7 separate regions of the Homo sapiens genome follow, and regions 1, 2, 3, 4, 6 and 7 are each linked to region 5. The links come from fine-mapping of genetic effects on gene expression. A gene starts in region 5. Each other region holds a variant in brackets. All regions are shown on one strand. Distances are from middle to middle.

Region 1 (4,069 bases), 39 kb before region 5:
TTCCTACATTAGAACACAACCATTAAACTTCAAAGGTCCTGCCTAACATTATCACCACATTTAAAGGTTTCCTTGTCTAATAATTACCTGCAGAAACAGAACACCTGAACTATCTTTAGAACATCACCGGAATAAGGATAGTAGGAGGCAAAGGTATTAATTTCCAGTACAAAATCTTGTCCAACTTAGGTAAAGAAGTTATTTTAGGATGGTAAATGTAATTGAAAGGTTAGCCCAAAAGAAACACTAATTTAGAACAACAGAAACTTTATGCATATGTTCCAAAGCCATTTCTGGTGTGAAAAAGAATATGTTTCACAAATGGTGCATATTTTTAAGCCATAAAATCCAGACAAATTTTTCAGAAACAAAGCAAAATATTTTAAAGAAATCATCACATCTACCAAAGAGCAAGAAAGAAAATTTAAATTCAAATACCTATCTTTCAAATAAGTATATTATACCATTTATCTTTCTCTTGCTTCTAAAACATCAAGCCAGTAGTTTCTTTCATAACATAATCATTCAAAGCATGTCCCCAGCTCCTACCCATATTAACAGAAACAGCAAACACCTATTGTCTATCCAAAGAGCAATTACACCTCCTCCAAGCAGACAGGAAAACTCACTAATTCTAACATGCTACAAGTAGTTTTACTGATAACCTCTAGAGATTTGCAACCAATTTCAAAACATATACCCAAATATAATCACATCATTATGCCCTTAAGGTAGTCTCATGTAAGAATACAAGTATCATGCTTCCTTCAATTAAAAGAGATGAGAGAATAATATAATTGGAAGAGCAGTGAGTAGAGAAATCCAATTTTTGGACAACCTAATGTGTGGTATATCTTGCAAAGCTTATCAAAATTGTTTAGATGGGGAGTTTCCTGTAAATTATTAATTCCATCATCTGGATTTAAATCTATGTAACTAGTAGAAAGGATAACTTTTTTATGCACACACACTCTCGTCTCACATACATACACACAAATAGCATATGAAGTACTGTTGTAACTGACTGGTAACACTGTTGTGATTGACTGGTAATACAACCAAGTGTTACCAGTCAATTACAACTTCTTTGCCATTGCTGTTTTAAAATACTAATCCAGTCATCTGATACACATATTGACACCTAAGTAACGATGGGATATTCCAGCCACTAGGGATATATCAGTGAACAAGGCAGAGTACTTGCTTACATGAAAGTTATGTACTACTTGGAAGAGACAGACAATAATTTCTGTCTGTCTGTGATGGTAAAGGGAAGAGAAACAACCGAGTGGAAACAAAGGGTGGCTGTGGACAGCCAAGCATCTATTTTTCTATCATGCATCAGGAAAACACCCCTTAGATGAGGTAAGCAGAATGTGGAAGAAAGTGTGGGAGAACACCAGGGGGATACATGTAGCCAAAGAGCCTCTCACATAGCAGAAAGAGCAAGTGCAGAAGGCCAGGAGAGGGGGATAGGGGGTAGGCAGCCCACCTGGGGAGATGGAGAAAGAGCAAGGAGGCCAGTGTGGTTGGAAGAGAGCCAGAGAGGGGGACCACCAGGAGATGACCTCAAAGGGGAGCAGGAGATCGCATTGGACAGGTCCATGTAGGCCAGTCTGTGGACATCAGCTTTTACTGTGAGTGGGCTGGGAAACCACTAAAGGTTAAAAATGGCGTCAAACAATTCCTCTACTAGTTCCTACTAAGCATCTGGTCCTGTGTTCACTGCTTTACATACATCATCAGAAATCCTTAAAATGATCTTATACAATAGGTAATTTTACCTCCAACTTTACAGATGAAGCAAATGCAAACTGTTCAAGCTCACAGTGCCCGAAATTGAAGCCTCTCTATCTCAGTGTTGCTCAACAGGGGGTACTTCTGGCACTTGGGGTGGAAACATTCTTTGACATATGGGTCTGTTCTGTACACTGTAAGATGGCAGCTATCATAGTCCCCATCTCCTATGTGTCAGCAATGTCCCTGTCAGTGTGACCAGAAAAACCATCATATACATTTCAAAAGTCCCCAACAGGAACATAACGTCCACTAGCTGGAACCACAAGCATGGTGCCTGAATACCCTCACCACTGTGCCCTGCTTCTGTTATTTTATTCTG[C/T]TTGGAGAAAAGGGACAACTGGAAAAAAAATGTTACAATATAGATGGATAAGTGAAACGCTTTAGAGTTGAACCTTTTTTTTAGAGGTATCTTCCCTTACTTCAAACTCTGAAACAACAGTATCACGGCTAAATATCAGAGTTGGAACACAATTACCAAGCCCAGAGAATAACATAACATTCTTTAGCTACAGAGTTGAGCCCAGAGAGTCCTTGAAGTAATAAAACAACTTTCTGTGAACTCGGGAATATAATAGGCTCTGTGGAAAATATTCAGAGGTAAGGTCTTCTTCAGAACCTTGGTTATATTAAAATGTATTTGTTGAGTATTTCCTAACATGAAATACTAGAAAACTGTCTACAGCAATGGCTAATCACATATATGGGAGCCTGATAAATTTAACCCTTATAAAAGCTGCTCTGTCCACGAGAGAGCTTATACAAGACACACTGAAAATTAACACTGAGATATCAGTTTTCAATAATCTTCATAAGGCAATCATTGAAAACATATGATTCCAGATATCTGGAGTTGTAAAGACAAATCTACTCTATTATCTGTCTAAAACATCAATTATTCTATCAATTATTCTTACCCCTAAATTCTATCAATTATTCTTACACCTAAAGCCTGAATATTAGAAGAATTTGAAACTCTGCCCAAATCTTTATAAGGCACTTACTGAAAAAGATGACTTAAAATAATCAACATTTTAAGAATAAATCTATATGATTTGTGTAACTCATGATTCATGCTTAAAAGTGAACTTGAACAGAGCTTGAAAACTGACAGAATTTGAAACCCAAACTAACCAACCTCAGTGTGTCAACACGAGATACTTCAATGGGCCCTTTATAAATATCACGAAGTGCTAAGTGTGAAAGACAAATGAACATTGTTGGAGCAATTTAAAAAGTCCTTATACTAATCATTTAAACAATATTATTAAAATAGTATAATGCTAAGTGAAGAAGACACTAACATTGTTGGAGCAATTAAAAAACCCTTATGCTAATAGTTTAAAAATAATGTTATTAAAGTATTCCATCAATCCATCCCTGATTCAGAAGTGGAAATCTGGCAAACATGCTTTCCTTAGGTCCTAAAAACTACCAATAATATACAAAAAGATTAAAAATAAGAATCACTTAAAAAGTAGTCATCTCAGAGCTGACTCTACTCTTATCTCCTCAAAAAAAAAAAAAAAAGTCAATGTAGAAATGTTACCTGAGTATCTACTAGTTCTTATAAGAGTGGCACAAAACCTGTCCATAAGAAGTTTATGATCTACTGGTAAGAATTCATGGATAGCAAGGCAGTGTGGAACATATACTATGAATATACAGAAATAGAAGTTCTGACGGTATTTAATGAGGTGTTAATCACATAGTCTATACAAAGGAAGCCAGCCAAGGGAGAAAACAAGAAGGGGACACTTTCCCAAGAAAACGAGAAGGACAACAAAATAAAGATTGAAAAAGAAGAAAAGGAAAGTGGCCAGGCGCGGTGGCTCATGCCTGTAGTCCCAGCACTTTGGGAGGCCGAGGCAGGTGGATCACCTGAGGTCGGGAGTTCAAGACTAAACCTGGCCAACGTGGTGAAACCCCGTCTCTACTAAAAATACAAAAAAAAAAAAAAATTAGCCAGGTATGGTGGTAGGCGCCTGTAATCCCAACTACTCAGGAGGCTGAGGCAGGAGAATCACTGGAACCCAGGAGGCGGAGGTTGCAGTGGCCGAGATTGTGCCAATGCACTCCAGCTTGGGTGACAAGAGCGAAACTCTGTCTCAAAAAAAAAAAAAAGAAAGAAAGAATGAATTTGGGCCGGGCGTGGTGGCTCATACCTGTAATCTCAGCACTTTGGGAGGCCAAGGCGGGTTCATCACAAGGTCAGGAGATTGAGACCATCCTGGCTATCACAGTGAAAACCTCATCTCTACTGAAAATGCAA
Region 2 (4,069 bases), 56 kb after region 5:
CCTAAGACTGGGTAAATTATAGAGGAAAGAGGTTTAATTGACTCACAGTTCTTCATGACTGGGGAGGCCTCAGGAAACTTGCAATTATGGCAGAAAAGGGAGTAGGCACGTTTTACACGGTGGCAGGCAAGAGAGAATGTGTGAAGGAGAAACTGTCAAACACTTATAAAACCACCAGATCTCCTGAGAACTCACTCACTATCACGAGAACAGCATGGGGGAAACTGCCCCGATTATCTAATCACCTCCCTCCCTCGTCACCCGGCGATTACAGGTTCCTATTCTGACATGTGAGGATTACAATTAGAGATGAGATTTGGATGGGGACATAGAACTAAACCATAGCAGAGGTAAAGAGAGAGAGAGAGAGAGAAAGAAAGAACTTCAAACATGTCCTTTCATAAAAATCCCACTTCCTGGATACCAGCGTTAATCCATTCAGGGGATCAGAGCCCTCATGATCTAATTACCTGTTAAACGGCCCCCCTTCCAACACTTCTGCACTGGGATCATGTTTCTAAAACATAAACTTTGGGGAATATATTCCAATCATAGGACCCATTATGAACTGCATGTCTAATCCATGTAGCAAAACGTCATGAGGAAGTGGTGTATAGATATGAGGCCTGCACAAGCCCTAAAGGCACAAATAAATTACATCAACACATGACTCGCATTTGTTGCATGCCTACTCCCACCAACCGTATCATGAAAGATTATCTATTACACTCTGTATGCCAAGAGAGCAAGTGGCTTCTTCAGATTGCTAAATGTTTCCATCCAAGACTGTGATAGAGTCATGGAAATAAATCCTAATTCAGTCCAACCTGAAAGGGCGGGAAAAAGGAGGTATCCTCCTGAGTCACTGGGGAAAAGTCCATGATATTGTTCTTGATTATAAACTGGATTATGATAAAGATGCCAGAAAAACTGCTGAAAGAAATTCAACAAAGATCCCAGAGAAATGCAGAACATCAGAGTATAGGTGAAAAATATGATGAGGGAAAGAGATCAAAGGAAGGGGAGAAAGGGTGAAGAAGGCTTGAAAACAAAGTGAAAGGGCCCAATGGGAGCAAGAAAACAGATGACTTTCCAGAGCTCAGTTAACTTTATCTAGGTGGCTTTCCTGGGGAATGCCTGGTCATTTTTCTGAAGGAATTCCTGAAATAGGAGGGGGCATGGTAGAAATGACAGGAGTGTCTGAGCTTAATGACAACTTGGTGATGCTGAAGTTCTCAAAGCTACATAGTCTCCAGAAGTTATGGTGGCTTTCTAGCATATGGCACAGAACCTAACAGGTAAGTTGAAGTAACAGAACAATCCAACATTTACCACGGTGTTTAATACTGGTACTCCAACCAGATCCCCATGGATTCCCCTTATTCTATTTTTAGGGCCCCAGAACTTTGAGGAACTTTTGGTCTTAAGAGCCAGCGTATGCTCTTCTTATTGTAGAGGACTGTTCATGGCAGAGTCTGAGAATTTACTTTCTCCTAAACCAACGATGGGTTTGGAAGTTTTATAATCCTGTAACCCTTACCAAGGGACAGCACAGTGGTGAGTTCAACAGACACTCCTGTGGGAGAAACTGAAGCAACTCCCTGAAAAACTTGACCTGAAATCTTGCTCCTGCTTGGCTTCCCCATTCTTTCACAGGTTTCCCTTGGGATTTCTTTATTGTAGTTTACCTGTACAACACTCCCCATCCTTTTTTTTTTTTTTTTTTTTT[A/TTA]AGACAGAGTCTTGCTCTGTCACCCAGGCTGGACTGCAGTGGTGCGATCTTGGCTCACTGCAATTTCCGCCTCCCGGGTTCACGCCATTCTCCTACCTCAGCCTCCAGAGTAGCTGGGACTACAGGCGCCTGCCACCGCGCCCGACTAATTTTTTTGTATTTTTAGTAGAGACGGGGTTTCACCATGTTAGCCAGGATGGTCTCGATCTCCTGACATCGTGATCCGCCCGCCTTGGCCTCCCAAAGTGCTGGGATTACAGGCGTGAGCCACTACGCCCGGCCACACCCCCCATCTTAAAGTCTGCTTTGGGGGCAGTTGGCTTCTAACACTAATCAAGCTCATCAGTAAATAAACTTTCAAATTTAACTATCTAATAGGGCTTTCTCTGGCTTAGAGATGGCCGCCTTCTTGCTGTGTTCTCACATGGTCTGTCTTCTCTGCATGCCTGCATCCTGGTGCCTTTTTGTGTGTCCAAATTTCTTTTAAGGGCATCAGTCAGATTGAAGTAGGACCTACCCCAAAGGCCTCATTTTAATTTAATTACCACGTTGGAGGACCTGTCTCCAAATACAGTCACATTCTGAGAGACTGGCTGTTGGGGCTTCAACATAGGAGTTGGCAGGGGACACAATTCAGCCCTTGAGAGTTGCATATGGGTTAAGAATTTCAAGTGTGAAATAGTTCATGCTCCAGTTTGAATAGGAAATGATTTAATCAGAAAGAGGCAAATATTACTCATTATTTACACAAATAAAGTTAGTGTTTGGTTAAAAGCTACTGAGGTATTTTGATTTGTTTTTAAACTGTCATTTGTTTAAAAAGATTTATTTTGATAAGATGTTTGGAGCCACTTGTATAGGATTTGGTAGGGACTTGAATTGCCTGGTAGGGAAATAGCCATCTTTTTATAATCTTATATAACATAAGCCCCCGTGAAAAAATTAAAAATAGACTGGCTGAAGAGAATTAAAATCTTGCAATGTAATGAAGAGCATCATTGTGTAATTGTACAAGAGGGTTGATTTATCATCAGGTAATCTCATTTCTGCTTTTGTCCAATATATAACTGAAATATTTTTTAAACATAAAGTTAGTAAAAGACAGTTGAAAGGATATTGCAACTATACACATACAGGACTGGCCGGGTGCAGTGGCTCAGGCCTGTAATCCCAGCACTTTGGGAGTCTGAGGCGAGCAGATCACCTAGGTCGGGAGTTTGAGACCAGCCTGGCCAATATGGTGAAACCCCGTCTCTACTAAAAATTCAAAAAATTAGCCAGACATGGTGGTGTGCGTCTGTAATCCCAGCTACTTGGGAGGCTGAGGCAGGAGAATCGCTTGAACCTGGGAGGTGGAGGATGCAGTGAGCTGAGCTCGAACCACTGTACTCCCGCCTGGGCACAACAGAGCGAGACTCCATCTCAAAACAAAACAAAGAAACAAAAAACAGGACCACCAAAGGCTGAAATACTCATGTATGACATTTTGGGTCACCCCACTGATTAAGCACTCCAACTGCTGAAGTGCTGGCAGGAGGCAAAGTAGCCATGGAGTGAGCCATAGAGTCATTAAGCCATCAGTATCATGCACAGGCATGGGACCTGTGCAAAGAAGATGACTAAAGCCATTACTCAGAATTTCCTTCCTTTTTGTGGCATGTAAATATTTTAACTAACTTCCCTATTTGTGTGGCTTTCCACAAAGATTGCATATGCATTGGTATCATCTAACTTTGTAATTATTTTGTGGTTTGAAATAGAATTGCCACAAAACTGAAAAAAGAAATAGATGTTAGTCAGAGGTCTTAGGGTTGAAACTTGAAGAAAGTGGAGAGAGTATAGTGGCTTCCTTTTGGAAGTGGAATATGTTCAGTAGAATAAGGGTAAGCTTGTTTATCTTTGGTAGGAGCTTTTTATTGTGTGTTATGTTTTGTTTATGTCTAGACAATGGTGGGGTATGGTGTGGTGGGTATGCATGTTTTATTCTAGCAACTCATGATCATAAGAGCCTTACTTTTTGAAGGAATTCCTGCATTGTGTGTCCTGGTGGGACACTGTGACTTGGGTGTCTCCCAAAGCAGGAGAGCAGGTACTCTTGAAAGTCATGGTGTGGAGGAGTGGGAAGGTGATGAAGGTTTGGCTGGTAAGACATGCACAGCCAAGCTTTTGAATCTTGGGGAGCGGTTGACAGATTCACAGCTTAAAGTTGTCACCAGCAGTAGCCTAAAGACACCAGTGTTATCAGCTTTAGTGTCCAGTGGCAATAGTACCAGTGCCCATGACTTAACCTCAGTTCATCCTGTGGTTTGAACTTGCCTGTGTTTTTGGATCCCAGTCTTT
Region 3 (4,069 bases), 170 kb before region 5:
TTAAGCATTGAATATACCTATATATTTTGCATATATGTGTATATGGTTCTGTGTGTGCACTTATATATACACACTTTTAAGATGTCTAAAACCCCTCTTCTTCTGGTTATTGTAACTGAAATTTCTTTTTTCCAGCTTTACACAAATACTTTTAATTTTTGAGCATCAACTGCACACACACCTAGCAAATGGGCAGCGATGTCTGCTCTGCACATCCAGTTGTGACTTCTGGTGGATGTCATAGCCAATGAAAGAGCTTAATGAAATGCAGGTGCATTTCGTTGTGAGTAAACTGGTGACAGAACTTAAAGTAAATCTTTTAGACACAGTTAACACATAAATATCGAAAGCATCAAAAAGACATTTGACCAGCATTATTTAATGAGTCGAATCTCAAAACAGTGTTGCATTTGTCATTTGTACCAAAGCAAAATGAATCTGAATGTTTTTCGGTCCACAGAGAAATCATGGAAAACAGCAGTCCTCAAGGCCTTGCCTTTGGTTTTTACTAAACTGCTTTCACAAAACATTCAACAGAGCAACTTTTAATTTCCCAAATGTCCTCTGCTTCTTCGTGTTCATGCATGTGTGTGTGTGTGTGTGTGTGTGTGTGTGTGTGTGTGTGTGCACAAGTACATGTGTGTTGGAAGGGTTGGCTCTATTACTGCTACTGTTGTTTTTAAGTTCTATGTGAAATTACTTCACATTTTCTCAATATTCTAGGATCTCTAAAAGCTAAAAATTCTATATATGTTAAATATGGGATATTACCAAGCGAGTGGACAGTTGTATTTTTTAACTTTATTGAGGGAGAGGTTGATTGATGCTTTAATTTGTGTATCATATTTCAGTCCTTGTCAACTCTGAAAAGTAAATTCTTTATTTCCCTATACTCAAAAAATCGGAAAAAAGTCACAGATGTTAAAATCATAGCTTTATGAAGATACTCGTTGATATATGGTAGATTTAGATTACTTTTTAGATCAAACATCCAAGTAAAAATTTAATAAAGCAAAGAATCCATCAATGCCCCACAAACTTGCCTCCCTTGATACAATAGGTGTGTGCCTGAAATATCGGTGGAAAAATGAAACTGCATAAATGCAATTCTATGTTAAAAGCATCAGAACTTTGCTGTTTAAAATCACCTTCTGATGATGCCATCTGTCAAGTAAATAATATTTTAACATATGAAAAATGCATTTATATAATAATATAACTTTAGGACTTTTAATAGACAACATTGGGGTTTATAAAATATAAGTATGTCATAACAAAACACCCATACATGATTGGATCTACCAATATAAATATCACAATGCAAAGTTATCTTTTGAGAACAAATTTATCTTTATTATGATCAAATAATGTATTTGCACTGAGACACTGGGTATATAAAATAGAGATCCCCACTAGACATATGGGCCTATCTCTTTTATAGCTATTATTTCAAGATATTTTAAAGGAACATAAGGGGTGGTTATTCTCTTCTACCCCATCCCTTTTCTGAACAACTTGGAATACTTAAAAAAAAAAAAAAAAAACAACTGAAAAGTCCAATGCCTTCCATGATCCCTTCCACTAGTTGTTTTCTGTTTTTACTTTCTTCTCCCCTTGAAAATCCCTCTACATCATCTAAAAGCATTCCTCAAAGGTGGGGAAAAACAAGTCAGACTGTAATTTGGGACTCAGTCTAGAACCAAGGCTCTAGGGTTTTTCAAATTATCCAGCTGGATTCCAAGGATGCCAAATGCATGTGATGCCCAGGGGCTGGGCATTTCCATGTTTGGCTTCTTTAATTTTGGTCTCATCATCACTTGTGAATAAAATAACTGAGCTAAAGAATTATTCTCGCCCATGTAATGAGGGTTTCTTTCCTGTATAGCATCACAGCTTGGAACAGGCTTAATCCCCACACATA[A/G]TATCTAAATACAGATCTGAAACAATCAGTATGGTTGGTCCCGGTGTCACTATGTAAATACAAGGACAACAAACATTGCATCCTGGGCATCAGTGAGAGGCAGAATAGCTGAAGGGTTAAGCCTGCACAGACTAAAGCAAGATGGCCTGGGTTTCAATTCCACCTCTACCTCATACACACACATGAGCTCTGTCACTGTACTTGACCTCTATAGGCTTATTTTTCTCATCTGTAAAAAGAAGATAGTAATCACCACCTACATCAGCAGGTTGTTGTGAGAACTAAATTTATAAAATCCTTGGGACAGTGTCTAAGCACTGAAATAACATGAACTATGAATAATAGTTCAAATAGTCAAAATCTGTGTGGGAATGGCCATGTACACGTCTTGTGTATGTATATAAATGTATATACATGTGTATAAAATACCACATATATTTACAAATCTATTCATAGGGAAATATACAGGTGCACTTACTTCAAGGCAAAATATTTCAGTTCTATTTGGCCTCATTCACTAAGTCAACATCTCATATTAATTTGTTTTTCAAATGGGAAAGTCAAGAATGTTACTTTCTGAAGGAAGAAAAAAGAAAAAATATATCCTTAATTTAATATAACTAAGTAAACCTTAGAAAAGGCAAGATACCAAAATATCTGAAAAACATAGGGGAAAGAGAAAGACCCAGAAGACAAAATGAGAAAGATTTTCAATGTTCATCCTAACAAGAAGAACTGAGTCTATAGAAACTTGACTTGGAATGGTCTGACCACCCTACAAATGCCCATGTTTAATTTCTTATGATAACAATAAATTCAACACTATGCAGCAACATTAACATAGCAGGTGCATTACTGATAACTTTCTTCTCTCATGTTGGGAATACAACCACTCCTGTAAGTGTAGCAGTGATAAATCGCATGGTAGAGGAAGGTGATGCTTGGGTCATCTAGCAAGGTGAGTTCTCTCACGTTTGTCCATCCACTTCTGACGAGACACCATGCGGACCTAGATCTTAAGAGCCTGCTTTTCTTTAACTGCTGCTTTCAACAAGATACGATTATGTTCATGCACATGTACATAGGCATCCATGGAAAACGTATGGTTTGCTTTCATAAAGTCTTAAAATTGACATTGAGAATAGATTAAACATGATTCTGCAATGTTCATGTTTGTATCACCTGGAGCTAGAGTCTAGAACATAAAGTTAATATTTTATGTTTTCTCAAAAAACAGAAGAAAAACACATCCCTTCAGTTCTGCCCTTAGTTTGTTGTGTTAGCATCACTTCCTGTACTGTCACAAGAAGAAAAGCCCCACCAGGGACTGGTTCAACTAAAATAGCTCCTTTCACACCTGTGTAGCAAACCCTCAACTATCACATTCGCTAATTTCAATTAGAGGACCTGACTACGGGTCATTTAATAAATCCTTGGCTTAAAACCTTGCTTCAGACAGCGCCTCTGTTCTGCCCTGTCATGCCAAGGCGAGCAGTTGGAACATGAACAAAGTGTCACAATGACGAATAAAGACACCAAGCAGCATTCTGTCAACAGATCACAGGAGAACATCCGTCAGTGTGTGTCACCCCTGACAGATATGGCAGTTGCATAGTGAAGAAAGGCAGAGGAGAGCCTGGGCTTGAGGATCCAACATTTTGCAGAAAGACAACCCATCATGAAGCCCCACAGACTCGGGGACACAGCACTACAGCCAGGGCAGCCCCCTAGGTGTGCAACCCGCCCCGCCAATCCAGTCCCCTACAGACAGCTAACAGGTCTACAGGCAAGGTACATAAATGAAGGCGTTTTCAAAGAAAAGGACATGAAAGCTTGGCTACCCATAATCTTACCAAAAGAAGAATGAAAGAAGATGAAACGGAGGCCAGGTGCGGTGGCTCAAGCCTGTAATCCTAGCACTTTGGGAGGCCGAGATGGGTGGATCACAAGGTCGAGGTTCAAGACCAGCCTGGCCAATATGACGAAACCCCGTCTCTACTAAAAATACAAAAATTAGCCGGGCATGGTGGTGCGTGCCTGTAGTCTCAGTTACTTGGGAGGCTGAGGGAGAAGAATCGCTTGAACCCGGGAGGCAGGGGTTGCAGTGAGCCAAGATCGTGCCTCTGCACTCCAGCCTGGGTGACAGAG
Region 4 (4,069 bases), 110 kb before region 5:
AATTACATGTCCCCCAGTGATATTGGGAGTTCAACATTCAGCCTATGACAGAGTTATAGGTACTATAACCTGGATATTAATATCAGGGTTTTGTTTTTTTTTTTTGTATTTTCCTGAAATAGTGACAGATATTTTCACCCAAACCAACCACCAAAATTAATTACCATCTTTTAGGTACACAGGGCTATTTAGGCCTTTTGACACATAGGAACGCATTTGATATTTTTTAACAATTACACAAGATAAAGCATGTAAATAAATTAATGGAAAATGACTATTACTATTCACTTCCTACAATGCTACCAACTACCATATATTGAGTGTCTCTACCCAATTCCAAGCACCATATTTGATAATTTCAATCTTCACAACCCTATAAAACAGACACTCTTTTTATCCTTGTTTCACATATGAGGAAATTATAGCTTAGAGAGGTTAAATAATTCTTTGAGTTAACCAGACCACTGGTGGATCTAGGATTCAGACCCAGGCAGTCTGAGAACAGAGCTCCTAATTTTAGCTACTATTTTTTTCCTGTTTTTTGCCACAAAAAAAGAACACAGAGTATGTTTGTCAGCCTTGCAGCCAGTGTCTTCCCTTCTGCCTGCACCATTCTCATATACATTTAAGTCCCTGGACACAAGAGTAAATTCATAAACATTTTGTACATACTGAGATTTTTGTCAGCTTGGTTCTAAAGCAACAAAGGCTACCTCAAAGATGACTGGAAGAAAAAGGGGTAAAAAACTGAGAATTTAAACTGAAATCTCTCCATCAGAGTTTAAATTAAAATGGAAATTTATAAACAAATTATCTCACCCAAATAATCTACTGATTTCCAGTCCCAAGTGCTAGTTATTCCCACTTAAAATCCCAATATAAAAATCTCTTTAAATATTAACTCAAACTCAATGAAAAGAACAAAGATTCTGATAATCTATTTTACCCCAAGGCTCCCAATATGCACTGTTAGCTGAATAACCACACATGGCCCAGAATAAATTATTCCTCAATTAATTTTCTTTGATCAAATATATAAATGGAAAAAAACTACCAATCAGAAGAGATAAGAGTAGGCAGTTGTCTATATTTCCATTATATATATATATGTTATATATATACATGTTTATCTCCATATGTATATATATATAGGTATTCATATATGTGTATATGTGTATATATGTATATGGATCCATATATATGTGTATATATACATGTATCCATATATATATACACACACATACATATATATCTCCATATACATAAATATGGATATAAAAATTCACAAAGATAGCTATTTGAATATGCAGCTATTTTCATGGAGAAATCAACTACCTTTACAAACCCAACTTGAATAAATATGGATATGGAGATAAATATATATGTATGTGTGTGTATATATATGGAGATATATATGTGTGTGTATATATAAATATATATGTGCATATATAGAGATATATATGTATGTGTGTATATATATGGAGATAAATATATGTGTATATATGGAGATAAATATGCGTATATATGGAGACAAATATATATTTGTGTATATATAAATATATATGTGTGTGTGTGTGTATATATGGGGATAAAAATATATTTGTGTGTGTATATATAATCAATATAGTGTACACTAGGCTTCTGCCAGACAAAGACAAAAGAAAATAAGGAAGCACATGAGTGAGCGGACAGACATTCTGACAAAGTCTTCAACATGGGAGGTGGGGAGTCAGAGGAAACCAGGCCTACACTAAGAGGAAATATGGCTATTCTTGAGCCCTGAAAACATAGTCTCTTTGAGATCTTTTACAAAAACAGCTCCAAGCTGAGTCTAGTATTAACTGTTCTGCAATTTGAAATAAATTGAAACTAAAATGGCATTATGTTAAAACTCTAAATTTTGACAATATTAAATATCTTTTAAGTGCCAATATTACTGCTAAACATAATCTAATATGCTATAGAAAACTTCACAAAGGCAGTCATTTGAATATGCAGCTATTTTCATGGAGAAATCAACTACCTTTACAAGCCCCACTTGAATATATAAGAAATTTTTTGACGATATCAGCTGGCAAGTTGTCAACCAC[G/A]TGACAAATAACTATTTACATTGCATGCTATAACCTAGCCCCCAGCTCAAGTCACCGGTCACCTACTGTATCACTGACACTGAATCCAGAGTCACGGATGCAGCAGCAATGCTGTCAAGATCAAGAAGAAGCTAAAGAAAATCCCTCCTTCTTTAGGTGGGATGAGAAAAAATACTTTTATTTTCAACATTAATTTAAGACATTTTAACATTAAAATATCTCTTTTATTGAGGTCACAAGTGTCAACAGGGCCACTTTTTAAAAAGAAGTAATAAAAGGAACTCAAGTTAAAAATAGCAGATATTTAGTTGAATCTTTGAAAAGGTAACTGAAAAGTCACACTACAGTTTTCCTACTGCTTTAAGCTATCTTCTCTGAGTTTACTAGTAAATCAATCACGGTTTTCATCATAAAAAGCTACAACTAGAAGCATAAGTGATGTCAAAAGAAAAATATTCTCCTCACCCACCCCACTGCCTCAATTCAAGAAGCATTACTGGAGACCTAATTATAAATAGGCTTTATATTTTTATATTGGATTATAAACATGCTAAATTATAACACATCTTAAAAAGCAGGTACTTCAATTGGCTTTAAAAATACTTTTCAAATAAGTCATCATCAAAGATGCTTTTGTTCTAATATAGCCTTAGAATTATAAAATATAATCCCAAATAAAATAAGATTATGATTTGTATCCACATTTTTGCTCAAAAGAAGAGTCCCAATCATATTGTGACAAAGTCTAATGCTTCACTGATGTTACAGACATCTTTGATAGGTACTGTATCAACTAGAAATTTGCATGTACTAGACTAGAGAACATTAAAATTTGTATCTTCCCAAAAGAACTCCCAATGGAAAACTTGGTAGCTAAAAGTAAAAGAAGAAAGAAGAAACCAAAATGCTGCAAATGTATGCCTGATCATCTTAATAACACAAAAGAAATAATTCCTTAACAAATTTCCTTTCCGGTTCCTCAAAGAAGAGCATTGTATTAAAAAACAGATATTTTAAGACTCCATAAAATGTTGCACCCCCCCTAAAATAATTGCAAAAACATCAGTCATCTGCTAGCTATCAAGGGACAATTGCAATGAGCCATTTCAAAACGACAAAATGAGAGGTTTCAAAAGAATAGAAGGTCCCACTTACGTGTCTCTTGAAATCACCCTGTTTTACCACTAGGTTCAAATTTAACACGATCACTCCCATGTCATCTTCTAAACTGTTTGGATCTTCCAGTTTTAAAATATGTTCAGTTGTTCTACAAGCAAAAAGCAACAAATAATGCTACCACTTATTGACAGGACTGTATTGACCTACACGCATCAGGAGCTTATGGTAAAAGTCTCCTACCTCTGAATAAGGATTAGACATGATGTTAAGAAAGCACAAAATTTAGTGAAAATAAAACAGTTATATTCAGAGTAGAGAAACTGTTTGGCATTGTTTAATTCAACAGTTGGTTAACTGATCCCCCTCCCCTACCACTCAAATAAAATGTAAACACTTGTTTTAATTTTAAGTTATGTTAATGAAACTGAATATTAACAAATCAAAGTATGAAATCCAATACACACTTTAGAATGCATTATAAAATACTTAACATCTGACTAATATATTTGGCACCTGGAAAGCAAAAATCCTTAAAAATACACTGACAGTTATAACACTTTAAAGCTCTCTTTCATTTGTTCAGATATGTTATTTTTGTCATTTGACCTCAACAAGCACCATTTAACATTATCGTAAGTTCCCTCTAAAACTCATCAATAACAATTAAAATGTAAAAATACGGTACCTGTTAAGCTCAAGATCACTGAGAATGACAAATGCAGAACCCATGAAATCAGATGTGGTTAAATCTCGATCATATACCTACAAAGAGGACAGAGGTCAATTAACACATTATTATGGTAAACCAACTGAGTTTTTCAAATTATTAACAAATGCAATAGGTTGGAAATTCTGAAATC
Region 5 (4,069 bases):
ACACAAACACAAAGTCCTTTCCAGGTGACAAGAGACCGCTAATCATCTTGCAGCTGTAAGAAATCAAGCTGAAATTGATTTCAAAGCCCACTCAGCTGAGAAACTCACCTCTGCAGGAGGAGACCATAGTAAAGCACACCAATAATAGGAAATTAGCTGTTCCTTCCATGTATAACACAGAGAGAATATATATGCAATTTTATTAATTGGCCCTGTTTGGATATATCAGGCCTTTCAAAATATGTTAAGAGACATAATAAATTTTATCTTTTAACATATTTTGAAAGGCCTTTCAAAATATGTTAAGACACATAATAAATTTTATCTTTTAAAGCTACATCTACTAGTCACAGATAGGTCACAGCTTGACCACACAAGTGCAATGAAAACAGTGCTCACTTCATTCCTGAGGACTACTTTAACTCCATTAATCCCCAGGAGATAGGATCTATGAATATAAATTTGAATTCTTATATTAAATCTGCCGGATTTACACTCTCCATCTTAGAGACAGCATGGAATAGTGAAAAAGTACGAGTTCTGCACTCAGAAATAGCCACATGCAATTTCTAAATTCACCACTGACCTTGTACAAATTACTGGACTCCTCTCTGCCTCAGTTCCTTATCTGCACAGGGGAATAGTATCTACTTTGTAGATTTCATAGACAAGACAAAGTGCCTAGCATGGTGCTTGGCACAGAGCTAATTCTTAATAATCTTATTTTAAGCATGGTTTTGACAATTTTTATTGCTTTGGAATGACTGATCAGGCTAATGACAGAGACTCTTCAAAGATTTACATTCTCCCTGCATTTAAATACTTATAACCAGCGATTACACAGGTGCTGCTGAGGCAAAGCGCAGCACCATTGGTCTCGTTCTAAACACCCACCTGTGAGGAATAAGTGCCTTAAGATTCCCCTTTGTATTAATATCAACACCTGTGCTACCCAACAGCACACCAGCCCGGCTCTCAGAGGTCTGCCCGTTAACAGGTGTACAATAAATATTTGTTGAATTGAAATGCTACTGACTCAAGCAAAAAATGAATGCTAATGTAAATTATAATCCATACAAATCCTTCAATAAGTGGTGTCTGAATTCTGTGCGTCCTGAAGCAAGTGTTCTAACGTCTCACGGTTCACTGAGAAGCTGCTTGGTACCTTAAGGGTTCGCACCCTTGTACCTTCCAGACCAAGCTCTTGTAAGCATCTAGAGGAGGCTGAAACCCTCAGTCAGCATCGCACAGAAGTTCATTCAGACTAGAGAAAACCTCTTTTATGGCAACCCAATCATTTAAAAAAAGCCGTCAGCACATTTGCTTAACAAATGGACAGTGCAGGAGGGAACTAATTGCGGAAACTAATCGCCACTCAAGTTCACCACCAACATCACTGTCTTTATTTTTAACTTACTTATCTTCAGTGGGATTGAGACACTGTTTGTTACCTACGCAATTATCCCAAGGATTTCTGCTCCGGTGTCGTTGAGCAAATGTCAGCGCAAAGAATTAAAGTTGAACCTCCGGGTCTCTACGAAGAGAGCGTATTAAAGCCCACCCAGCTGAGGAACTGACCTCTGTGGAAGGAGTCCTGGATGTGGCGGTGACTACCTCCGTAGCGCCCCGGGGAGACTGAATGTGTGGCCTTTAAAATGCAAAGAAATTCTGGGCCAGGCTGCCCTCCCCTAGTGCGCCTTCCAGTACGCCACGCCTGGATTTCTGCCTCCAGTCCTCAGGACACCTTTCTGATCTCTGAACCACAAGCAGCTCCGGGGTAGTAGCGCCACTGAATTCTCATCCTGGACCCTCCAGCTCCCCAACTCCCAGCTTCGGTTGAGAGAAGACGCCCACCCCCAGGCGGCGACCGTGCTGCCCGGCCCACGCGCGCTGCCAGGTGAACCCGGCACCGCCCTCACCTGTGCGAGGCCGCGTTCGGGGGCTGCAAAGCTGGGCAGGCGCGCGCCCCTCACCTGCACCGGACCCGCTGCAGTCGCCACTCGGAAGCGCAGGGAGCAACCCTGACGCGGCGGGGGCGGGGGCATCACCGAGGGCCCCCGGACTTCCTCGGGCCCCCCCACCGCCCTTGCGAGCCCCGCCTAAAGGGGAGGAGGCGGCCGCGCGTCACCTTTGAGCAGCCTCCGACCCAAGCGCCCGCGCTGCCGCCGGGAGCTCGGCCGGGTGTTGCAAGGAGGCGCTATGCTTGGTGCTGGGCACTGGCTGGGCGTAGAGAAGGCGATTACTTGTAACTCATTCGTTTGGGTTGGCTCACAGGAAAAGGAAGGTGTGTCCAAAAAGTCCGAAGTGAGGAAATAGGACGAGGATGGCTTGCAAACTCGTAAAGTCTTAATAAGCTGTCTTCGCTGATACTCAGAAGGGTTCTCTTCGCTCCTGTAGGTCCCTAATAGATTCATGGGAAGACAGCAGCCTCCCTTTGTAACGCCCTGACCCTGGGAAGAGGTACCCGAGCCAGACAGCCTATTAACCTATGCCACGTGTGCGCGACTGTGGGTGGAAGATGCCCGCCCAGATCCACAGAACTGTTTCCTGAGCCTTGGTGCCTCATCTATGAGATAAGGCCGGCGTACTGCTCAGCAAGCCGTCCCGAGTACTCGGCAGAGAACCCTAAAGACCCTCCCGTGCGATTGTTGGCACTCAGCGAATATTTGCTATTTATTTCCCCTTTCCCTTACTTTCTTTTTCTACTTTTTTTTACGCCGCTTTCCTGCTGTAATTGTCTTATTGCACTTTGTTTGCTCGGTTTCACTGCCTGGTCAGTTTCTTTTCCCGTCTATGAACGAGCCTAAGTCTGTGCGCTCTAGGAATTTGGGTGGATTAGGAAAAGAAATGTATGATCCATGCCTTCTGGGAGATCAGGGACTCATCTCTGGGAAATAGCATTTTTAAATTAGATACAAGAGAGTTACAGAAAATAACCTTAAAACGGGAATGGGACCTCTGGGAATAGGCGAGCTCTGAAATGAAGCGTTTAGTTGGTGTCACTGGTGATTAAGAGCTCCGGCTTTGGAGTCAGACCTCAAATCAAATTCTGCCTGGGCAACTAATTGTGTAAATGGACGAGTTCACTTAACCTCTCTAAATTTTAACTTCAACAAACTGGTTGTTTAAATAGCTTAAAATAGCTTAAATAGCTTAAAATAATAGCTATCTCATACTTTCTGAGAAATTAATTAGGTAATTCACATAAAATCCTCATTACAGTGTCCTGGGCCATGGTAACCACTTAATAAAAGTTAGCTATTAACAATACTAAGGTAGGAAATGGGAGGAAGGGGCATAAAAATTTAGAAAACATGAGGACGTGATAGAAAACAGCTGCCACTGTCATGCAATTCCGACTTACAACAATAGCTACCACTGAGGAACACAACTTCGCACCAGTTTCTGTGATTGGCATGTAACACGTGATCATATTGAATTTTCACAAACCAGGAGACAGTTAATAAAATCTCTGATTCAAGATGAGGAAAATGAGCATCAGAACCATGAAATAACCTGCCTGAAGCTATGAGTCAAGTTAGTAGCCGAGTCAGAGCAAGCTGAGGCCTATGGCAAAATTGGCTTTTCCCACCGTGCCGAAGGTTACATCCCCTAGCAGAGAACAGAGAGAGGTAAGGGTAAAACAGCATGAAAGGAAGAAGAGAAAGAGCAGTAGGCAGACGAAGCAATCATACCTTTAAAGCTGACTAAGAATACAAATGAATTAAAATAGTAAGTGAACCCACACAAAAGCTTTTTTGCCTTTAACTCCTGCCCCAGTGGAGTTCCTGTTCTGTGGTTCCGGCAGTCCAACCGCATTTTTCAATCATTAAATGGTATAGAAAGTGAAACAACTAAAGATACAGAAATCTAAGGTCACAACTTGCCCTTCCCACCACAATACACTCATCTGCCCAGCTTCCTGGGTTTTTTGTTTTTAATTGTTCAAACATATTACCTGTCTCCTTTTCTATGTTCCACCCAGGAAATGTCCCTTCCAGGGAATAATATTGTTGCTTATACCAATTTAACTTTACTACATAACCACACCAGCATTTAGAATGGCAAC
Region 6 (4,069 bases), 64 kb after region 5:
TAGAATAAGGGTTGTGAACAATTCTAGGGGAAAAGGACTATTAAAAAAATACATATAGGGCTGGGTGCAGTGGCTCATGCCTGTAATCCCAGAACTTTGAGAGGCCAACGTGGGTGGATCTGTTGAGGTCAGGACTTTGAGGCTAGTCTGGCCAACATGGTGAAATCTTGTCTCTACTACAAATACAAAAATTAGCCAGGCGTGGTGGTGCACACTTGTAGTCCCAGCTACTCAGGAGGCTGAGGCAGGAGAATTGCTTGAACTTGGGAGGCGGAGGTGGCAGTGAGCCCAGATCGCACCACTCCAGCCTGGGTGACAGAGCAAGACTCTGTCTAAAAATCAAAAAGAAAACAATTGGGTAATTAGGCTAGGGGATGCTTTTGAAAGCATAGTCTCAGTTGTGACCTAACGGACTCAATGACTTTGTTCACTAACACATTCTGCCTTTCATAGCCTCATCCCAGTGCTTCCTTCTGAGTTACTAAAAGTGATTATTTGTAACTCTATTTTAAAATAAGATTTCATTGATTTAAGCATTGAACTAATTATCCTTAAATAATATATCTGTTGGACAGGCAGGTAGAGGAGAGTTCTCATTATTCCTGGTCATCACCATGCTTCCATCCTATTCTATGCCTTTATTACAACACTGCCCTATCTAGGATGAAATTTATCTTCCTGACCATGAAAATTTCTCCTGAGACTGATGTGATTGCTGAAGACATGCTTGCTGACCACGACCTATGGAGAGTTTTTTAAAAATAGTTTAATGTATTTTAATAGCAAACTTACAGAAACAACACAGAAGAAAGACAACATTAAAAAACACGTACTGCATGTAGGACAATTCAGTGAGAAAAGTCTAGTGAATGGATGGTATCTGTCATTTGATAAAAATGCTACAAACACCATTTAGTTGCTGTCAATAAAACATTTACTTATTTTTTTTTAAAAAATCCAAATGCTAGCATTGTTCAGAAAAAAAATAACAGGTTTCTTAATTGTTATAAAGTTTAACCACTGAGACTTCTTCACTGAAAGGTTTGACTTGCATTAATGCTTCATGTAGGGACATAAATGCAGGGCATTTATACTAACAGTTCACACACAAACGAACACAGAAAAAAAGTGTCAATATCTGGTTTCTGTCCTCTGTTTTTTCACTGGCAATCATATACTTAGTTACCTTTTGACCCCATGGAAAAAAAAATATCTAACATTCAGAACCACCAATAACAAGAAGAAGAGAATTTTTCTCAGAATGAAATGTTCCCATCATAGAGGATTCTTAAGGACCTTCTCTACGTATGAGATGTGCTAGCTGGACGACTTTTGGCATAATTGTTACACATTTGGCATGGATAGTGCACAAGTTGGTGTCTTCAAAAAGGCCAACCAGATAGCCCTCACTCACTTGCCTCCTGCAAAGCACCAATAGCTGCGCTCTAAAAGCGCAGATGTTTTCAAGTCCTGAGCAATTACGTGCATCAGATGCTGGAAGGAAAGTTTGCAAATCAGAAGTTTGGAGGACTTCTGATAAGGTCTGATATCATGGAGTGTCACAGTAACCAGGCCTGTAATTATGAGTTTTCTTCACCCTTCCAGGAGAGGGCGCACTACTGCAAGCAGCTTCCACAGCCGGTTGCTTCCTGGGGGCTTTGCCACTGGTTGATCTGTGGGCAGTCGGCTTTGTACCAGCCACGGTCTTAAAAACCTCCTTACTTATCCCCTTCTCCTTCAGCTGGGGCTCAGCGAGCTACAGGTGGTGCTGGCATTAGAGATTTTATGATTGAGGTGTACTGTTTTGAAAATAGAATCTCAGGTTTGCTTTGTCAGATAGGCCATATCTATTTAATCTGGTTGTAGAATCCATACCCATTCTCCAACATAGTTTAGAACTAGTTATTAACAGAGGTACGCAGGTAAAAAGATCTTTCTGTCAGTACCCTTAAGAGGAAACGTGTACACACACACACGCACACGCGCGCGCGCACACACACACACACACACACACACACACACGATACAGTTTAGTTCATGGAGGCCTGCGCTGGCCACCTCCTGTCTTATTGCCTTTGGTAATGCAATCATAACATCTAAACTTAGCTACTGCACTGATTTATGTATTGTAGATATGGTTCTTCTTGATGGCGAGCAAGCAGGGGCCCTGGCTTGATTAAGAGGAAAGCAGAGGCCTTACCTATCTCTTTCACCGCTCTGCCTCCCAAAGCCTAGCACAGGGCCTGGTAAAACTTTAGTAATATTCATAGACTCAGAATGACAACGTGAATAATGACTCTAAGAATTCAGACCATAGGTTTAGAACCAAGGCTGTGAGTTTAAGAGTTTTACCGTCTTCGAATAAAACTTCCTCTCCAATCCTGTGAGTGTTGAAATCATACCCCTTTTTAAAGCCTTGGGGG[A/G]AAAAAAAAGAGAGAAAGCCCTTATGTGTATACCACTCCAAATGAGCAGGAAACAGCATAATTATTTAATGTGTGTATTAGCCTGTTCTCACACTGCTAATAAAGACATACCTGAGACTGGGTAATTTATAAAGGAAGGAGGTTTAATGGAGTCAGTGCCACATGGCTGGGGAGGCCTCACAATCATGAGAGAAGGTAGAGGAGGAGCAAAGTCAGATCTTACATGGTGGCAAGCAAAAAAAGAGAGCATGTGCATGGGAACTCCCCTGTATAAAACCATCAGATCTCGTGAGACTTATTCACTATCACGAGAACAGCACAGGAAAGACCCACCCCCCCCCATTATTCAATCACCTCCCACAACAAGTGGGAATTATGGGAGCTAAAATTCAAGATGAGATTTGGGTGGGGACACAGCCAAACCATATCAGTGTGCTCAAAGTAATAACATTTCTTCAGGAACTAGCCAGGAACTTTGAAAAGCAACAGATTTTCTTCACTCTACAGCTGCATGACTATGTGCAAAGTACAAAATGGAAAATCATGAAACCCCAAAGAAGAACTTGACGTCAGGGCAGATCTGAATTCAAATCCCTGCTCTTCCCCCTGGATTCATCATGTCTTTTTCCAGCCTTCCTTTTCTCATCTGTAGAATGGATGTGCTAATGTACTCACTTTTTAGAGTTGTGAGATAATTAAGCACTTAACATAATACATGTTAAGTGTATTAATATGTGTGTGGCACATAGTGAAAGTCCAATGTATGTTCGTTTTTTGTCAATTTTTAGTTCATAATTTGGAAATTAGCCATGACAATGATATTTCTGGTTGTTTTAAGGCATGAAATAAACATGTAAAATATCTTTTTGGGCTATTGCATTGATATTGGTCACAAGATGGATTGATGTAGATCACAAGACCAAACTGGGTTAAAAAAAAAATCTAATATGAGCCTGCTTTTTGTTTGTAAGTATATGGAAGAAATAGTGCCCAGAATAAAATCGGAACAAGGTGGAGGAAGGATTCATTCACACAAAACATTGCAACATTATTTAAAGTGAATCTCGGAGGCAGTGGGTTTTTTTTTTTATTTTAGTATTTTTGTGTGGGTGTGAGACGGGGTATCGCTCTGTTGCCCAGGCTGGAGTGCAGTGGCACTATCTTGGCTCACTGCAACCTCCACCTCCTGGGTTCAAGCAATTCTCCTGCCTCAGCCTCCCGAGTAGTTGGGATAACAGGCACGTCCCACCACACCAGCTAATTTTTGTATTTTTAGTAGAGACGGGGTTTCACTATGTTGGCCAGGCTGGTCTCGAACTCCTGACCTCAGGGGATGCGCCCACCTCAACCTCCCAAAGTCCTACTGAAAGGCGAAGACAGCTGGACCTCCTGGATCCAGTGGGGACTTGGGGAACTTTTCTGTCTTACAAGAGGTTTATAAATTCACCAATCAGTGCTCTGCAAAAATGCACCAACCAGCACTCTGTAGCTAGCTAGAGGTTTGTAAAATGGACCAATTGGCACTTTGTAAAATGGACCAATCAGCGCTCTGTAAAATGGACCAATCAGCAGGACATGGGGGGAGGACAAATAAGGGAATAAAAGCTGGCCACCCCAACCAGCAGCGGCAACGTGGTAGGGTCCTC
Region 7 (4,069 bases), 28 kb before region 5:
CTACTTTATACATTACAGCCTGCCTGGCCACCGGTTGGTTTTTGATGGTAGAGTTGTCACTAAGACTCACAGCTGCCTAACACAGAATCCACATGCTATCCACTCCAACTGTTTTACCAATCAGGTGGTAGTGTGAACCCAAAAAGTGTCTCAGACAGGTCTCAATCAATTTAGAAAGTTTATTTTGCCAAGGTTAAAGATGCACCTATGACACAGCCTCAGAAGGTCCTGATGACAAGTGCCCAAGGGGGTTGGGGGTACAACTTGGTTTTATACATTTTAGGGAGACATGAGACACATCAATCAATACATGAAAGATACACATTGGTTTGGTCCAGAAAGGTGGGACAACTTGAAGCAGGGGTGGGTGGTGAGGAGGCAGGGGAGCTTCCAGGTCACAGGTAGATTTAAAAGTTTTCTGACTGGCAATTGGTAAAAGAATCATCAATAGAAAGGAGGGTCTCGGTCATGATAAAAGGTTGTGGACACCAAGGTTTCATCGTGCTGATGAAGCTTCCAGGTAGCAGGCTTCAGAGAGAACAGGTTGTAAATGTTTCTTACCAGACCTAAAGAACTATCACTGTTCTATTACTGTTCTTTCAGTAATTCCAAAAGGGAGGAGGGTATAATGAGGCATGCCTGGCTGTCCCCTCCCATCATGGCCTGAACTCATTTTTTCAGGTTAACGTTGGAATGCCGTTGGCTGAGAAGAGGGGTTCATTCAGATGGTTGGAGGGCCTTAGAATTTTATTTTTGGTTTACACAGTCAAATTAACATTTTGAAACTGAAGTGAAATAAAGGATATCTGAGAGTGTACTCTGAACCTCTACTCCCCTTCTCTCACCTCTCTCCTCTACAATCTCTCATTTACACCACCAGAGCAACGGTCTTTTCAAGGTAGAGATGGAATCACCTTTAATGGCTCCTGCAGATAAACTTTGTACAAGTTCAAAGTCCTTAATATGGTGTTGGAAGCCCCATTTACTGTCTGCCCACAACCTGTATTCCCAACCACTCTGTGGCCCATGAGAGAAGACGAGAGGGCAGAAAGAAGAAGAGAGTTGGCACTGTCACTCTGGAAAGAATGCCAGCCTATCAATGAAGGCTGCACCCTCCAATCATGAGATGATGCCAAAGCTGAACAAGAAAGTTGAGTGGGCTGGACTCAGGGGGTAGACTGCAGCCTGGAAAGGAATGCTAAAGAGATGGCAGAGCCTCTGAATGCACCATGGCAAGCCCACTGGATCCTGAGTCGGGGAGGAATTTTCGCATACCCTTATTGCCCCTGAGGAACAGGAGAAGTTTCCGTGGCCAGAATCCCCAGGAAAGGCACTCAAGGTTCCTTGGGTAGAGAAAACAGAAGTGAGAAGACAACATGAGAGGTACAGGTGGAGCCTTTTCATATATTCCAGAGATAAAGCAAATGACCTCACTGGTGAACAGCCAAAGGGGAAGAGAAAGTGGTTGAAGGAGATTAAGAACAGGGCAGAGATCAGAAGGTTCCTTACCCAATGTATGATCTGGAAAGGACAATTACATGGTGATGTGGAGGGCATTCAGTGCACAAGGGTGAGACTAAGCCATCTGCTATTCCTGTCCAAACAATAACAATAGTTTACAAATGACTGAATCAGGACAGGCGCACTCTTCCCTACAGTAGAGACCTGGGGAAGCCTTTACAAGCGATCATGTCCATCAAAAAGCAGTATCCTTCACCAAATGATCATACAGCAATAACCTGAACAAAAGGGCAACAAGCTTCAAAGTAGAAATAATCATCACAGAGGTTAAACCAACCTTGGGCCAGGTTTGTTTTTGGAGTTCAGAAATTTAAGAATTTAGAGAGTGTATCATATATTACACAATACCCTAAATGGTTTGGAGACAGTATTTCATCATCAAACATATCACAATTCAAACTTAATGGGATATATAACTACTACATAGAAC[A/G]GAAATAGTTACACAAGAGTCCAAGTCAGAGTTTGCTACCAAACCCTGGTAAGGATTCTTACAAACAAAATCCTTTCCATTTGCAAAAGTTTCTGAATTGTGAATTTTTAGATAAAAGATTTATGAACTAGCAGTTAACAGCTGCAGTAACAGAACAGCAGCAGAAATAGGAGGAGAACATCAATTTCCCCTTCCTGATCACCACTCTGCCCCAGGTGCCAGGCTGTGCACTGTAGCATGTTCTCTTTAAAGGTGAAGAATTTGGAGTTCGATGAGCTTTATTCAGGACCTTTAGCAAACTTTTCTTCCCTTAGCCTCCCTAGGCAGAGTATGAGTACTAATGGTGTGTTTTTATTCAGGTCCTGCAATCCCATGACCTGGACTAGGCTGGGTGGGGTGAAGGGGGTCCCCAGAGTGAACTGAGTGAGCATGGCCCAGGGAGAGTCCAGCATAGCCACAGAGTGTAGGAAGAAAATATTGGAACTTCCATTCACACTGACTTAATGTGTTCTTTTAATCTCTATTTTAGTGTATGCTGAATAATGTATATATATTATCAGCACCATAGTACATGTACATAATTTATAAGTAAATATGTAAACTTATATATTGGGTGTGTCTGCTCAAAAAGTACCTGCTTGATAGGGCGTATGATCAAAAGAATATGCAGAGAACAGTTCTAGAGCATCTGAATAATTAAATCCTTTAACCTGTTGGAAAACAAATAACAAAACTGCAATACCAGGAAAAGAATTTGTTTTCTCCCTTTAGGCAATAACTATTTTCAGAACTGTATCTCTCCTTTTAGAAAGAAGAATCAGGTAATGAACATAATGCAAACCAGACAAGATGAAATAGACAAGATTTTTTTGGTTTTTTGGTTTTTAGTTTTTTAAGGCAAGCGTGATTTAAATAGGGTTTTCGGTAACTACCATTGTCACCTCTACTAAATGGTGTTTCTCTTGGGAAAATTCATTAACTATTAATTTCAATAAAGGATCTCATCTGTCTCAAGTCACTCTTACATTTACAAACTACACCATGCATGCACCACTTCCTTTTTACTTACTCTGGCACATTCAAATAATTTGCATTTTCAGAAGTAGACACAGATGCTTTTTTGTGGACCCAGGTGATGGGGCAGAGGCAGGATAAAAAGATTTGCATGTCCTTTGAGAGAGGAGTCACTCATAATTAGAAAAGAAATTCAAACTCACAATATAGAAATAAATCTGTTTACCATAACCTGGGCTTAGAGAAATCTGGATAACTGAAGCATTCATTTAGTTGTGACATTATTAAGTAACCAAGGAATTAGAAACCCTCCTGGGATTTGAGCACATAAATGTTCAATATGTGGCCAGGCACAGTGGCTCACACCTGTAATCCCAGCACTTTGGGAGGACGAGACAGGCAGGTTACTTGAGGTCAGGGGTTCGAGACCAGCCTGGCCTACATGGTAAAACCTCATCTCTACTAAAAAAAAAAAAAAAAAAAAATGACATGGTGGCAGGTGCTGTACTCAGGAGGCTGACACAAGAGAATTGCTTGAACTCAGGAGATGGAGGTTGCAGTGAGCCCTGAGAAGATCGCACCACTGCACCCCAGCCTGGGCGGCAGAGCATGATTCCATCTTAAAAAAGAAAATGGGCCAGGCACGGTGGCTCACGCCTGTAATCCTGACACTTTGGGAGGCCGAGGAGGGCAGATCACAAGGTTAAGAGTTCAAGACCAGCCTGGCCAACATGGTAAAACCCCGTCTCTACTAAAAATACAAAAATTAGCTGGGCATGGTGGCACACACCTGTAATCCCAGCTACTCAGGAAGCTGAGGCAGGAGAATCGCTCGAACCTAGGAGGCAGAGACTGCATTGGGCCGAGATCATGCCGCTGCACTCCAGCCTGGGTGACAGAGCAAGACTCCGTCTCAAAAAAAAAAAAAAAAAAAAAAAAAAAAAAAAAAACAACAAAGAAAATGACAACAAATATTTTTAAAATGTGATAGTTCTGAAAAAGCCCAAACAATTTTTCTTTGTAATGCTACCAGGGCATTGTAGGGAACATACACCACTGTTACCACACGCAAAATATATGGGAGATAAGGTTGAATTTTGTCTA

Alleles and levels. Positions count from the first base shown, and alleles are read on the strand shown. Sizes are in standard deviations (SD) of each study's normalised expression. Not every link is listed here.
In carriers of allele TTA in region 2, the expression in whole blood of the gene that starts at base 2,023 in region 5 tends to be higher than with A alone (moderate effect, 0.67 SD a copy in TwinsUK).

The links. PIP is the estimated chance that this variant, and not a neighbour inherited with it, causes the effect. A credible set is the group of variants that fine-mapping cannot tell apart.
Region 1: its variant is the best candidate, but not a certain one, in a credible set for the expression of MCTP2 in blood mononuclear cells (TOPMed, PIP 0.86).
Region 2: its variant is the best candidate, but not a certain one, in a credible set for the expression of MCTP2 in whole blood (TwinsUK, PIP 0.57).
Region 3: its variant is the best candidate, but not a certain one, in a credible set for the expression of MCTP2 in whole blood (INTERVAL, PIP 0.67).
Region 4: its variant is the best candidate, but not a certain one, in a credible set for the expression of MCTP2 in whole blood (TOPMed, PIP 0.70).
Region 6: its variant is the best candidate, but not a certain one, in a credible set for the expression of MCTP2 in whole blood (TOPMed, PIP 0.59).
Region 7: its variant is the best candidate, but not a certain one, in a credible set for the expression of MCTP2 in whole blood (INTERVAL, PIP 0.83).

The regions. Positions count from the first base shown.
Region 1 is chr15:94,268,037-94,272,105 of GRCh38, reverse strand. All of the region lies in intron 1 of MCTP2 (multiple C2 and transmembrane domain containing 2), which reads right to left. Among named protein-coding and RNA genes, the nearest start is that of MCTP2, 39 kb to the right of the region's middle. The variant C/T (reference allele first, on the strand shown) is at 2,120.
Region 2 is chr15:94,173,953-94,178,021 of GRCh38, reverse strand. No RefSeq gene overlaps it. Among named protein-coding and RNA genes, the nearest start is that of MCTP2, 56 kb to the left of the region's middle. The variant A/TTA (reference allele first, on the strand shown) is at 1,730.
Region 3 is chr15:94,404,334-94,408,402 of GRCh38, reverse strand. The region is part of intron 17 of MCTP2 (multiple C2 and transmembrane domain containing 2); the gene reads right to left. Among named protein-coding and RNA genes, the nearest start is that of MCTP2, 170 kb to the right of the region's middle. The variant A/G (reference allele first, on the strand shown) is at 1,922.
Region 4 is chr15:94,340,101-94,344,169 of GRCh38, reverse strand. It overlaps MCTP2 (multiple C2 and transmembrane domain containing 2), which reads right to left. Exons shown (of 23, transcript NM_001385001.1): 6 at 3,895-3,971; 7 at 3,246-3,357. Among named protein-coding and RNA genes, the nearest start is that of MCTP2, 110 kb to the right of the region's middle. The variant G/A (reference allele first, on the strand shown) is at 2,091.
Region 5 is chr15:94,229,515-94,233,583 of GRCh38, reverse strand. MCTP2 (multiple C2 and transmembrane domain containing 2) reads right to left here and starts at 2,023. Exons shown (of 23, transcript NM_001385001.1): 1 at 1,920-2,023. RefSeq lists a silencer at 1,964-2,093 and an enhancer at 3,629-3,768.
Region 6 is chr15:94,165,980-94,170,048 of GRCh38, reverse strand. It overlaps the pseudogene H3P40. Among named protein-coding and RNA genes, the nearest start is that of LINC01581, 60 kb to the right of the region's middle. The variant A/G (reference allele first, on the strand shown) is at 2,424.
Region 7 is chr15:94,257,416-94,261,484 of GRCh38, reverse strand. The region is part of intron 1 of MCTP2 (multiple C2 and transmembrane domain containing 2); the gene reads right to left. Among named protein-coding and RNA genes, the nearest start is that of MCTP2, 28 kb to the right of the region's middle. The variant A/G (reference allele first, on the strand shown) is at 1,952.